3 separate regions of the Homo sapiens genome follow, and all the other regions are linked to region 3. The links come from fine-mapping of genetic effects on gene expression. A gene starts in region 3. Each other region holds a variant in brackets. All regions are shown on one strand. Distances are from middle to middle.

Region 1 (4,247 bases), 45 kb before region 3:
TAAGCACTTCTCTGTATTGGTTATTCTAGTTATACATTCTTCTAAATTTTTTTCAAAGTTTTCAACTTATTTGCCTTTGGTTTGAATTTCCTCCCGTAGCTCAGAGTAATTTGATCGTCTGAAGCCTTCTTCTCTCAGCTCGTCAAAGTCATTCTCCATCCAGCTTTGTTCCTTTGCTGGTGAGGAACTGCATTCCTTTGGAGGAGGAGAGGCGCTCTGCTTTTTAAGAGTTTCCAGTTTTTCTGCTCTGTTTTTTCCCCATCTTTGTGGTTTTATCTACTTTTGGTCTTTGATGATGGTGATGTACAGTTGGGTTTTTGGTGTGGATGTCCTTTCTGTTTATTAGTTTTCCTTCTAACAGACAGGACCCTCAGCTGCAGGTCTGTTGGAGTACCCGGCCGTGTGAGGTGTCAGTCTGCCCCTGCTGGGGGGTGCCTCCCAGTTAGGCTGCTCGGGGGTCAGGGGTCAGGGACCCACTTGAGGAGGCAGTCTGCCCTTTCTCAGATCTCCAGCTGCGTACCGGGAGAACCACTGCTCTCTTCAAAGCTGTCAGACAGGGACATTTAAGTCTGCAGAGGTTACTGCTTTTTGTTTGTCTGTGCCCTGCCCCCAGAGGTGGAGCCTACAGAGGCAGGCAGGCCTCCTTGAGCTGTGGTGGGCTCCACCCAGTTCGAGCTTCCCGGCTGCTTTGTTTACCTAAGCCAGCCTGGGCAATGGCAGGCGCCCCTCCCCCAGCCTCGCTGCCGCCTTGCAGTTTGATCTCAGACTGCTGTGCTAGCAATCAGTGAGACTCCGTGGGCATAGGACCCTCCGAGCCATGTGCGGGATATAATCTCCTGGTGCCCCATTTTTTAAGCCCGTCGGAAAAGCACAGTATTCGGGTGGGATGACCCGATTTTCCAGGTGCCATCTGTCACCCGTTTCTTTGACTAGGAAAGGGAACTCCCTGACCCCTTGCGCTTCCCAAGTGAGGCAATGCCTCGCCCTGCTTCGGCTCGTGCACGGTGCGCGCACCCACTGACCTGCACCCATTGTCTGGCACTCCCTAGTGAGATGAACCCGGTACCTCAGATGGAAATGCAGAAATCACCCGTCTTCTGCGTCGCTCACACTGGGAGCTATAGACTGGAGCTGTTCCTATTCGGCCATCTTGGCTCCTCCCTCCTGGTACATCATTTTCAAAACTACCATCTTCCTTCACATCTTCAACATAATTAATACATTCAGTAATTATGTGAGCACTCACTGTGACAATTGCTGTTGTAGTGAGTGGTTTGGGATATATCAGAGAAAATTCTGGAATGTTAGAATGCTCTGGAAAAACAGAGGGTAAAGGGATTGGATGGTGTACTCGGGGAGATTTTGAGAAAGTCATTCAAGAGAATGACTTTCATACAGTGGTTGAGGAGGAGGAAGGGCTTTTCTGGCAGGAGAAACAGCAAGTCCAAGGCCTATGGCAGGAGCACACCTGGTGTGTCTGAGGAACAGCAAAGAGGCTGGTGTGGCTGCAGCACAGCAAGGAAGGCAAAGACAAGGGCAGAGGTCAGCAAGGTGACTTGGGGATGCATCACGAGACCCTGTAGGCCACGGAAAGAATTTTGGCTTTCACTCCAAGGAAGATGGGAAGCCACTGAAGAGTTTTCAGCAAAGCAATGGCATGATCTGATTACATTTTGAAAGAATTTTTCACTATTCTGTTGAGAACAGACTCTGGGAAGAGGGGGAATGGTAGAAGCCTGAGACCAGTTAGAAAGCTACTGCAGTATTCCAGGTAAGAGATGATGGTAGGAGAGGACCAGGTGGTCACGATGGAGGCAGTGTGAACTGGTCAGATTCTAAAGATATCTTAAAGGTAGCACCAGAGTATTTCCTGATGAATTAGAGGTGAGTTGAGAGAGAAGTTATGGAGTCAGTATGACTCTACAGTTTTTGGCCTAATTGGAAGGATTCAGTTGCCATCAACTGAGATGGGACAGAATGCATGTGGAGGAGGTCTGTGAAAGCAGACTGGAATGCGTTTGGGACATGCTCAACTTGAAATAATGAAGACGTCAAAAAGAGTACCAGATGACTCCAAATTCAAGGGAAGTCAAGTGGGAGACAACAACTTGAGATTTGTCAGCACAAAGATGTGATTTCAAATGACAAGATTAGGTAAGATTTCTAAGAGAATGTGTGTAAACACTGGACCAAGAGCTGAATCCTGGATACTCCAATATTAAGAGTTGAGGAGAACAGGAGGAACAACC[A/C]TAAGGGTAAGAAGAAACAAAGCCCTGGAAGCATGTATGAAGGAGAAGAGAGTAATCAACTGCATCAAATGCTGCTGTTGCACAGAGATCAGGACTGACAATGGACCACTGGATTTAGCAATACATAGGTCACTGGGCACCTCCCAAGAGTAAGGCTGGTGGAGTATGGAGGCAAAATCTTGACTAAAGTGTTGAGGAGAATAAAAAAAAAAAATGGAAATAGCAAGTATAGTGAAATCTGTCAAGGACTATTACTATAAAGAGGAGTAAAGATACGGAGTGGAGCCAGGCGTGGTGGCATGCACTTGTAATCCTAGCTACAAGTGAGACTGAGACAGGAGACAGGAGGATTGCTTGAGCCCAGGAGTTCAAGGCTGCAGTGAGCTATGATTGTGCCACTGTACTCCAGCTTGGGTGACAGAGTGAGACCCTGTCTCAAAAACAAAACAAAAAATCCTCTGCAGCCAGGCATGGTAGTTTACTCCTGTAATCCCAGCACTTTGGGAGGCCAAGGTGGGAGGACCACTTGAGCCCAGGAGTTCAAGACCAGCCTGGGCAACATAGTGAGAACCCGTCTCTAAAAACAAACAAAAACCCAGAGCCCATGATTTCAGCACCCATGTTCTTTTTTTTTTTTTTTTTTTTTTTTTTTTTGAGGCGAAGTCTTGCTGTCACCCATGCTGGAGTGCAGTGGCGCAATCTCAGCTCACTGCAAGCTCCACCTCCCGGGTTACACCATTCTCCTGCCTCAGCCTCCAGAGTAGCTGGGACTACAGGCGCCTGCCACCACGCCCGGCTAATTTTTTGTATTTTTAGTAGAGATGGGGTTTCACTGCGTTAGCCAGGATGGTCTCAATCTCCTGACCTTGTGATCCGCCCACCTTGGCCTCCCAAAGTGCTGGGATTACAGACGTGAGCCACCGTGCCCGGCACATCCATGTTATTTCTACTATACAACTCATATACTATTCTGCCTCTCTAAATTCTGCCACAGGAAAGTATATGTCAGGAAGAGGACAATTATCAAAAATGTATAGCAATGAGGGCTGGTCATGTTGGCTCATGCCTGTAATCCCATCTACTCGGGAGGCTGAGGCAGGAGGATGGCTTGGGAGTTCAAGGCTTCAGTGGGCTATGATTGTGCCACTGCACTCCAGCTTACATGACGGAGCAAGACCTTGCCTCTAAAAAAAAAAAAAAAAAAAGATGGATGTGTAGATGTGTGTGTATATAGATATACGCATATATATACATATATTTTATATACACATATACATATATTTTATATATATACATATTTACATATATTTTATATATATACATATTTACATATATTTTATATATATACACACATATATACATATATTTTATATATATATATACACATACACATGTATATAGTGGAATTTGGCGGGGGGGAGTGGAGAAATGACATGGAGTTTTTTTAAGGAAGACAGAGTTAGTATGTTGCTGGGAATGATCAGGAGGATGTTCTCTTTTCTGTGTTTTTACAATGTTACTCATAGGTCCATGTGCATCTTTTTAGACATCCTCAGATGAGATCTGGCCCAATTACTCAATAAATAGGGTAAGTGCACTATCACTGACTGCTCAGCTGTAACTTTGCTTACTAGTCAGAATCCCTTCTTACACTGACAGCTGAAAAGCAGGCTGATAGTCACTGCTCCACAGCAGTTTTTAGTGTTCGATGGGCACACACTAAGTATGACTCTGTTGGATTTAGGTAGTATCTGATCTTCCTGCCCGGTTCTCTCATCTGTTGAATGGTGGATTGTATTAAACACCATCATTCTCAGAGTGCCCTTACCAGGTTGCTTCCTGTCTCCATTTCTAACAACAGCACTTTATTTGTGAAGACTATCTCAGGGTACAACGTGCCTCCAATGTCATCTCCCCTCCCATGGCTTTTTGTAGTATTAAGACAATAAAGGCCTGGTATGGTGGTTCACACCTGTAATCGTAGCACTTTGGGACGCT
Region 2 (4,247 bases), 37 kb before region 3:
AGGGGACAATGTATTTTCACTCTGACTTGTTTAAAAGACACAAGGAGGTTGGCATATTTTAAAGTTAACACATTTTTTCATTATAAAAACAGGCTTAGGTTAATGGTCACTCTCTAGCATTTGGTTACCGACTGACTGATTATCATATGTGTGCGTGTGTGTGTGTGTGTGTGTGTGTGTTTGTGTGTATATATATATATATATATATATATATATATATATATATATATACACATAGGTTCCTGACTTTCTACTACTCATTACTGTTGGCTGATGCAAAATTTGATTGTGCAACATACATCTCCTCAAGGATGAACAGGAAATGCAAAGATATAAAATTCAAAGTATTAATAGATGGTTTTGCTACTTTTTGTACTTTTGGTAAATGAGATAGTTGGAAGTTAGAGGCTATTAACTAAAATAAAATTAAGGAGTAAGTAAGTTACCTGTAAATTTCATTTACTCACATTAGGACTGACTGGTCTCTCTTTATTGGAGTTTAACAGAAAACAGACTGGACCATGACTGGCAGCTATATATTGGTCATTTTCAAATACTCCAATGACACTCTTCAATAACTTTATTATCTCCAGTTTTATGATGCCATACCATGTTTTTTCACACTGTTTAAAAATTTCCATTTCCATAATCCAATGCCAAAAAAATTACTACACATTCTCTTACACAGTCAAAAATATATTTACTGGAATGTTTTTAGTTATACCTGAGGGCAACAACATTTACAACATTTAGCTTTTGTTACACCTATAAATGTGGAAATTGCTTGCAAAACAACTGTAATATGAAAGGAACTATATTTCTGCAAATATTGACAGAATGGTTATGCATCTCTTTCAGCATATAATTTGGTACTCTACACAGGCTTCCTGACCCCCAGCATGACCCGCTCCCTAATGCAATAATGCAAGTCCTTATGCCATTAAAATATTAATATGAAATATTATAATCAGTGTTTATATACACAAATAATGAACTGGCAAGTATCTAGTTTCAAATTAGATCCTTGAAATATGGAAAAATAGAGGCTAGTTCTCTTTGCCTTAAACATAATTATTAAAAGAACATTTTGTTAGAAAGGGAGAAGATAATTGGACATTCTCAACGTTCCAATTTGAAGTGATACTTGCCTCTTAGTTTCTTGAAAAAGAAGTTTTGAAAGTTATATACACATAGGTTTCATTTAAATTATGCAGCAATCTTTTATTACTGTCCCAGATCTTGTTTAATGAAGATCTCTGTCATCAAATCAAGTACGGTATTTCATGACTATAAGAACTGTAAGAGAAAACATGAAAAAAGCAATATATCAACATCAGATATATATGCTATGTTTGAAGCAATATTCCTAAATGTAGTTGTGTCTACTTTTAGAAATGGGTAATGAGGATTGACTGAACTTTTATCTGAGGTAATAAATAATCAATGGGAAAGGAGAAGCAAAAAATATCATAAAACAACCTAAATGTCTAACATTGGCATCTTAAATAAATAATGGCATAGCCATAGCTTGTATCTGCTGTTAAAATATTACTAAAAATTTTGATAACCTGGGATAATAGTCACAATATATTTATTAGAAAGTACATATAATATAGTCTTAGTTTTTTAAAAAACATGCTTGTATATTAATAGGAAAAGAGAAGTATATATAATAGTTATATTAGTAGCTATCTCTACTAATTGTAAGATTATAGTTGAATTTTTCTTCTTTTTGTTATTAATATTTCACATTTTCCAATTGCTCACTATATATACATGATTGATTCTTGGTTTCTGAGGTAATTATTTTCTATAAGGTCACTACAAACACTAAATTAGTGAATATGGAACCACTGCTTCTAGGGAAAATATAGGGTTAAGTTCCTGTGAGTCTCTGGCTACTACATTTTTGTCAATCAATGCATAACCTTGGTTTATATGTGTTTCTGTTTAAAGACACTTTATTTAATATGTATTATTGATTCAGTAACACTGTGCTCAAGGCCAACAGCACTATAATTCATGCCTGAACAAAAGTTTGCCTAATGTGTATTTTTTCCATGAAGACACATCACAGCTCTCTTGTACTGAGCAACACTAGACAGCACTTCAGCACCACGTGTGGGGACCATTTTAAACAGTGAAATCACCAACAAAAAGCACAACAATGCAGAAAATGTGGTACTAAATAGACTACAAAAAGAATGTTTATGTTATGAGTGCTGAAATAAAAAGG[C/T]AGAAATGGCTTTGTTTAACCTCAGCTAGGGATGTGTGGGTTGGGGGACTTACAATTTTTTGTTACTCTGAAAATGTCTGTAAATGACTGTGAAAGCACCATGAGTACTGATTTTGGGGTTACAAATAAATTTTACCTGGTAACTGGATTTGCAAACACGGAATCTATGAATAATGAGGACTGACTGTATTTCTTTGTAACAAAACATTTTTTTCTGTTTAAAAATATAACAGCATAATATAATTTTTCAAATGATTATTTTTAGATACTTTCCAAAGCGTCATAAAACCTCTCTGTAAACATAGGCAGAGGCCTTGAAGAAAAAGAGATATTTAAAATGATCTGATTTTTAAAAGAACATTAAGGGAAAAAGGACGGGAAGGAGTCATGCTTTAATGATGGAAATTATGCTCAACTACAGAACAAAACAAAAACCAAACAAAAAAAAATCATCTGGAGAACGTATTTGGATTTATACTTCCAAAACAATATTACAAAATGCAAACTGCCATTCCTGAGAGTTAATAATAAATAGAAAATGAGTATTTTAGACCTTAGTGTAATAGGAACCAGATTTGGCCTTGAACAAATCACTTAGCCCTGGATTTGGGGGTGAGGGTTGGGGGCAGAACAGGAGTTCCCTTTGAGAATCTGACAAAAGATATAGACCCTCTCTCCATAAAAATGTACATATACATATTCACATAAAATTTTACATATTACTTAAGAGCATTTTCAGAGATCAATAGATTCTAAGAGCTCCTGAGACAGGTCAGAAGTCATTATTCAATCCTGACTTCAGACATACTAGGTCAACTGAAAATAAAAGGGAATTAAAATGAACTCCAAAATAAATGATACCCTAGGAAGTAATAATCCAATAAATACTTACTGATAATCACTAGCAAAAGGATAGCAGCAACCAAAGCCATGATGGCTTTTATCTACAACACACAAAAGGGCATATATATTAATATTTGACTTGTTAATAAAGTCAAGACTATTTGTTGTTCTATTTACTGCATCATACTAAATCATCTCATCACCTTAAGGTTTCTTAACTACAAAACTGACACAGAATGCTCTTAGGCAAAGTTGCTTATTACATGAGGCTATTCATAAAGAATCTAAAATATATTCCTCAAAATGGAGATAAAAATGCAAAGAAGAAAGTAAGGGGAGAAAAAACTAACAGAATTCTCATATACTTTGAAAAAAAGTGCTATAAACTGCTACCTTCGATGTATTGAACCATTTGAATTGCATGGCCTATGTTATTCATCATATCTTGACACTTGAACAGAGTTGCTAAAATACTGTACATTTTCTCTGGTCTCACATTAGTAATAAGCCCATCAAATCATAGAGGTTCAGTTTATATGATAAAGTACTTTAAGCCTTTTTTATTAATCTGAAGCATTTCTAAAACAATTTGGAATTTCTACGGTAGTTTTTCAACTTTACCTGAAATGTACATTAATTTGCCCTGTTAAACGTGTGTTTGGCTTTACTTAAGAAGATTTGAATGAAAACATCAATATCAATTTTAAAACACCTCAATGAATAGAGTTTTCTTCCTTGGGTTTCTAACACTGGGCAGAAAATGTTTACAGCTCCAAATGGCAGTATTGTATTCATGCAAGTCCAAAGCTCTCTTATTCCAAATAACATGAACAAAAATCTGTTTGTCATTAAACATATAAGAGTTTCACAGCCCCCAGATATATTAAGAGAGGTGTTAGCGATTCTCTTTCCCCACCTATGGATAATTTTATTAACTCATTTATTTTTAAAGCCAGGTATATTGAGATACACTTTACAAAGAATAAAACTTATCCTCTTAAAATACTTTTGATAGGTTTTGACAAATATATCCAGCTGTTAATAAACATGACCACAATCAAATATAGGACATTTCCACCAACACCCTTAACAAGTTTCCTCATGACCTGTTGTGAGTCTCCAACTGCACGACATCCCCCTTAGCCACTGGCAACTCCTGATCTGCGTT
Region 3 (4,247 bases):
GACTAGATGGTAGATGAATACCCATCAATTCAGGATAGCTCAGAAATACTGAATGTTTTACTATGTGCTAGGCACGGTGCTCAGTGATACACATGCATTTTCTTTTACTCTTTATGATGCTTCTTTAAAGTAGGCACCAAGAAACTAGGAGAAAACTAAAGTTTAGTAACGATAACGTTAGTCACTACATTCATTGAAACAGCAGAGATACAGGCCTAAATTAATCAATGGCTGTGCATTATCAGTTTTAATCATTTGTTCAATTAGTTGCCCATCAGGTTTACAGAATTCTGTTCTAGAAAGACTCACTTCCTGCTAACAACCCAATAGTCCTGCTTCCTTTTCCATAAGAAGAAACACTTAGACCTTTAAATTAGGTATAGTTAGACATCAGTTTGTTTGTTAATGATATACACTTAAAAAAGAATAATCCCAGGATCTGGCTTCACGAACCAAATAAAAGTAATGTTTTAAGTCAGCTGCTTGTCAAAACCAAAGGACACACTTTTCTTTGATAAGAAATGCTTCCAAATCAGAAATTATTCACTTGTAACAAAAACCAAATTCTTGCTGCCTGAGTAACAGCTCTTGAGTTCTTGGTTCCACAATATTTCTGTCACATACATCTGGCCCTTTTATTCCTCATACTTTGATGTCAGAATACTTCATTCATGCAGAAATGTAACAGAATGCATGGAAAAACAGATGACAAGGCAAATTACTGAAGAACTTGTGCTTTTAACTATTATCTGTATTTAGATTTTAACCCCTGCAATGAGGCTGCCTCAACATCCCAAAGCAAACAACGGGCAGACTTATATAATGCCTTTATAAGACATACAGTAAAACTACAATCTTAAGGATGAGCAAACACCATATTCAGGTCTCTTAATCCCAAGAAACCATGTGCAACAAATAGCCCATCAGCAAAGCAGTAGGCAGATTAATTAGCTACCTTGATGAACTTTGATGTTATTTGCAACTGATTATTAGTAACTGATATGTGTATCAAACAACTAGTAGAAATAAATCATGCTCAGAAAGTAGACTAGGATATAGTCTGCCTAAGATTTCTCCTACAAAAAAAGACATGTGAATTCAGCTGTTTGTGACTAGGTATACATGTAAATAAGAGAGCCATCATGTACTTCCACATTGAGGATAGACCACCACTATACAATTCACTCAAATGAGTCACATCACCGTATGCTTCTTATACATCAGCATATACTTAAATGTCTATGTGTGCGTTTTTGTAAGTAGTACGTTATCTAGTCAATAGCTTTGAATCTGGGCAAAGGCTCTCCTTTTCCCAGCCTCCATTCTCTTTCTGATTCGTCTTCCTTGTCTGTCATCAGCCTTCTTGCTTGATGCAGTTTCACAGAAATAAAGTGACTTGGATGGACACAGACCGGAGATATTATTTGCAAAACCTGTCAAGTGTAACGATTCACCCCCACCTTCCGGTCATTATAAACACAGCAGGGTTGGCGCTCTTTCCCCCGGGCCCTTTAAATACACAATTTCAGGCAGCTCCGTTCACCCCCCACACCCAATCTGTCACACCAGGCCACGTCCCACGATATATCTGCTCCTAACGCTGGCCCTTCCTGCCCCATTGTACCCCCTGGAATTCCTCACTACATCCCACTCTTAACAAACCTTCCCCATCCATGGTACTGTTCTCTTCCCATCACCCCAGAGTACCCCTCAATTCCAATTCTTCTCTCCCTCAACTGCTCCTCGTCCGCATACCCCTGTCCTCGTCTTCCTTCCTCACGGCACCCCCGGCCCCAACCTTTTCCCACTCCGGGGTCCCTTCCTAGATCCCCGAGGCCCGCCGACCAGCCCGACTAGGACGTCGGGGGGCGGCAAGGCAGGGGCGTCTTCTTCGTTTCCTTCCTCCTCACACCAGCCCCTCCCGCTGCGAACAGGCCAGCGCCAGTACCTGAGGCTCCCGGGGAACTCCCGGCAGCTCTCCCGGGCTGGCGGTGCTGGGCGGGCGGGGGAAGGAGTAGGAAGCCGAGGTAAGAAGCTGGGAGGGGGAGACAGTTGGTGCGGACCCGGCGTCGGCCGCAGCGCCGCAGCAGCGCCTCCGCTCATCGAGCCGATCGGCGCTCGGCGGCCTGGCGCCAGGCGGAGGGGGCGGGTCCAGGGCACGGAGATAATCGAGGAAGTCGATCCGCCGAGCCCTATTCACCTAAAAGAGCCCGAACCCACACGCAGTTTAGATGCATCTCTCCAAATTTATGCTGTGCTTTAGGGGAGGAACAACCACTGGTTGTCCACGTTCCGGTCGTGATCCGGCGTGCGTGGAGGGCGATTAGGGGAGGAGTGGGAAACTTCCGAGAACCGCTCGGGACTGGGCGCCGCGCCGGAGTGCGTGGCTGGGGTGATGAGGCGTTAGAAAGAAGGTGGTGCTTGGTGGCACATCCGTCCCTCTGGCTGACTACGTTGAGTGGCAAGTGGAGAGTGGCTCGCAGCTCGAGGACCTGCTTCGGGTTCGTCTGGGGCCTTTTCTGAAGAAAGGAGATCTGTTTGATCCCCTGTTTACAGAATTAGAGCTAGACTTGGAAAGAGATGTTAAGGCCAGGCTCCTCCCTTTAGATAGGAGGAATATCTGGTTCAGAGAGGAGATTGACTTAAAGTTAACACGGCTAGTTTAGATAGATACGGGACGAGGGCTCGGTGTTCTTTTCCCGGTATCCCTTAGTTGTAACCTGAAAGCCTTCAGGAAATCGCCCTCGCCAGGCCATTCCGCCACTCTGCCCATTCCTTCCTCACTCCCTCCCCCTCCGCCCAATTTGGTATCATGTTTAGATCTCCACGCCCGCAGTAGCTGTCTACCAGAAACAATTCCTAATTTTGTTTTTCCGTTCTCTTATTTGTTTTATTATCCGTTCCTCCCACGCCCCAGCTGGATTATTTTACTCATTGAATCATATTCACTACACATCTTTTAAAATTAATACAGTATCTATGGGTCCTTTGTTGATACAGTATTTTAACTGTCTGAAATACTGTGCCAGGCACTTTCTAAAGACATAAAAATAAGAGGGGGTGTTCAAGAACAAGAGTAGACAAGAAAACAGCAGGAGGAAAGATCTGCGGACACTAAAGGAAAGGAAAGAATAGACACCCTCTTACCAAAAAGTTGTTCTTCTTTTGTTTGATGTTTATTTTTATGTAAAAATGTACTAACGAATTTGAAAGATGCCATGACTAAGGCAACGATGCTCCACTCTGATTCACTTGGAGTTGAATCACTTGGAAAGCTTTTAAAACTACGTAGGTGCCCACGTGCTACCTAGATTCTGATTTAAATGTTCTGAGATTTAGAAACAGCCGTTGAGTTGTCAGTTGAAGGTTCTGAAAGCTTAATGCTAAACTCAGTTGCCTGTGTTTATTCAGTCCAAGTTGCTGTCCAAGTCAGCAACTTGGACTGAAACGGCCCACTTAGAAGAGAAGCCTCTCATGGTTTGTATCCCTGTCTAGGTGTGATAGTGGGTCTACCCCCAGACTCCACAGGTAACCCTGACATTATTTTTTCTTCTACAGCTGATCTTTTTTTTTTTTTTGAGATGAAGTCTCACTTCTTCCCCCAGGCTGGAGTGCAGTGACACAATCATAGCGCACAGCAGCTCTGAACTCCTGAGCTAAAGTGATCTTCCTGCCTCTGCCTCCCAAGTAGCTGGGATTACAGGCATGAGCAGCTGTGCCCAGCACTTACAGTTGATTTTATGTCTGTATATTTGCATGTTATGGGCTATTTTCTGGCTTTGGTGCCTTAGCCAATTAGAGTTTAGCTAGTTATAGCCTCATCTCTTAGACAACTTAAGGTGTGGTCAGTGAGCTCTAACAGGCACGTCATTGCATAGCTTTTACAGATAATCCATTCTTTGGGTTTTTTTGTTTTTTAAACATAATTCTTTAGTCCTGCCAGTCATTTTGGAATGATCGCTTAGGAGAGGGGTAATGCAAGCCCCACCCTTAATCACCTGAACAAAGTCCCTTTGACTAACCCCAATATTTGTGAAACTTAGAAAATGTCATTTTACAGTTAACATGAATCAAATATACCAGTAAGCCTAAAAGATTATAATAGCACTGAGCTTAGAGTCAGAACTCCAAGCAACTTGAGTTACTTATTTCCTCCATTTTCTTTTTAGTGAGCTTCAGTTATTCAGATGTTAGTCCTCTAATTTTCTTTTCCCCTTTTTCAACATGACACCTTCATCCTTAAGAGG

Which allele goes with the higher level. Alleles are on the strand shown, and positions count from the first base shown. SD is a standard deviation of normalised expression in the study named.
With allele A in place of C in region 1, the expression in prefrontal cortex of the gene that starts at base 2,104 in region 3 is higher (small effect, 0.34 SD a copy in CommonMind).
For the expression in skeletal muscle of the gene that starts at base 2,104 in region 3, allele C in region 2 goes with a higher level than allele T (small effect, 0.29 SD a copy in GTEx).

The links. PIP is the estimated chance that this variant, and not a neighbour inherited with it, causes the effect. A credible set is the group of variants that fine-mapping cannot tell apart.
Region 1: its variant is the best candidate, but not a certain one, in a credible set for the expression of VAMP4 in prefrontal cortex (CommonMind, PIP 0.74).
Region 2: its variant is the best candidate, but not a certain one, in a credible set for the expression of VAMP4 in skeletal muscle (GTEx, PIP 0.67).

What each region holds. Positions count from the first base shown.
Region 1 is chr1:171,695,258-171,699,504 of GRCh38, forward strand. No RefSeq gene overlaps it. Among named protein-coding and RNA genes, the nearest start is that of VAMP4, 45 kb to the right of the region's middle. The variant A/C (reference allele first, on the strand shown) is at 2,250.
Region 2 is chr1:171,703,239-171,707,485 of GRCh38, forward strand. It overlaps VAMP4 (vesicle associated membrane protein 4), which reads right to left. Exons shown (of 8, transcript NM_003762.5): 7 at 3,129-3,180; 8 at 1-1,296. The coding sequence ends at 1,268. Among named protein-coding and RNA genes, the nearest start is that of VAMP4, 37 kb to the right of the region's middle. The variant C/T (reference allele first, on the strand shown) is at 2,237.
Region 3 is chr1:171,739,962-171,744,208 of GRCh38, forward strand. It overlaps VAMP4 (vesicle associated membrane protein 4), which reads right to left and starts at 2,104. Exons shown (of 8, transcript NM_003762.5): 1 at 1,949-2,104.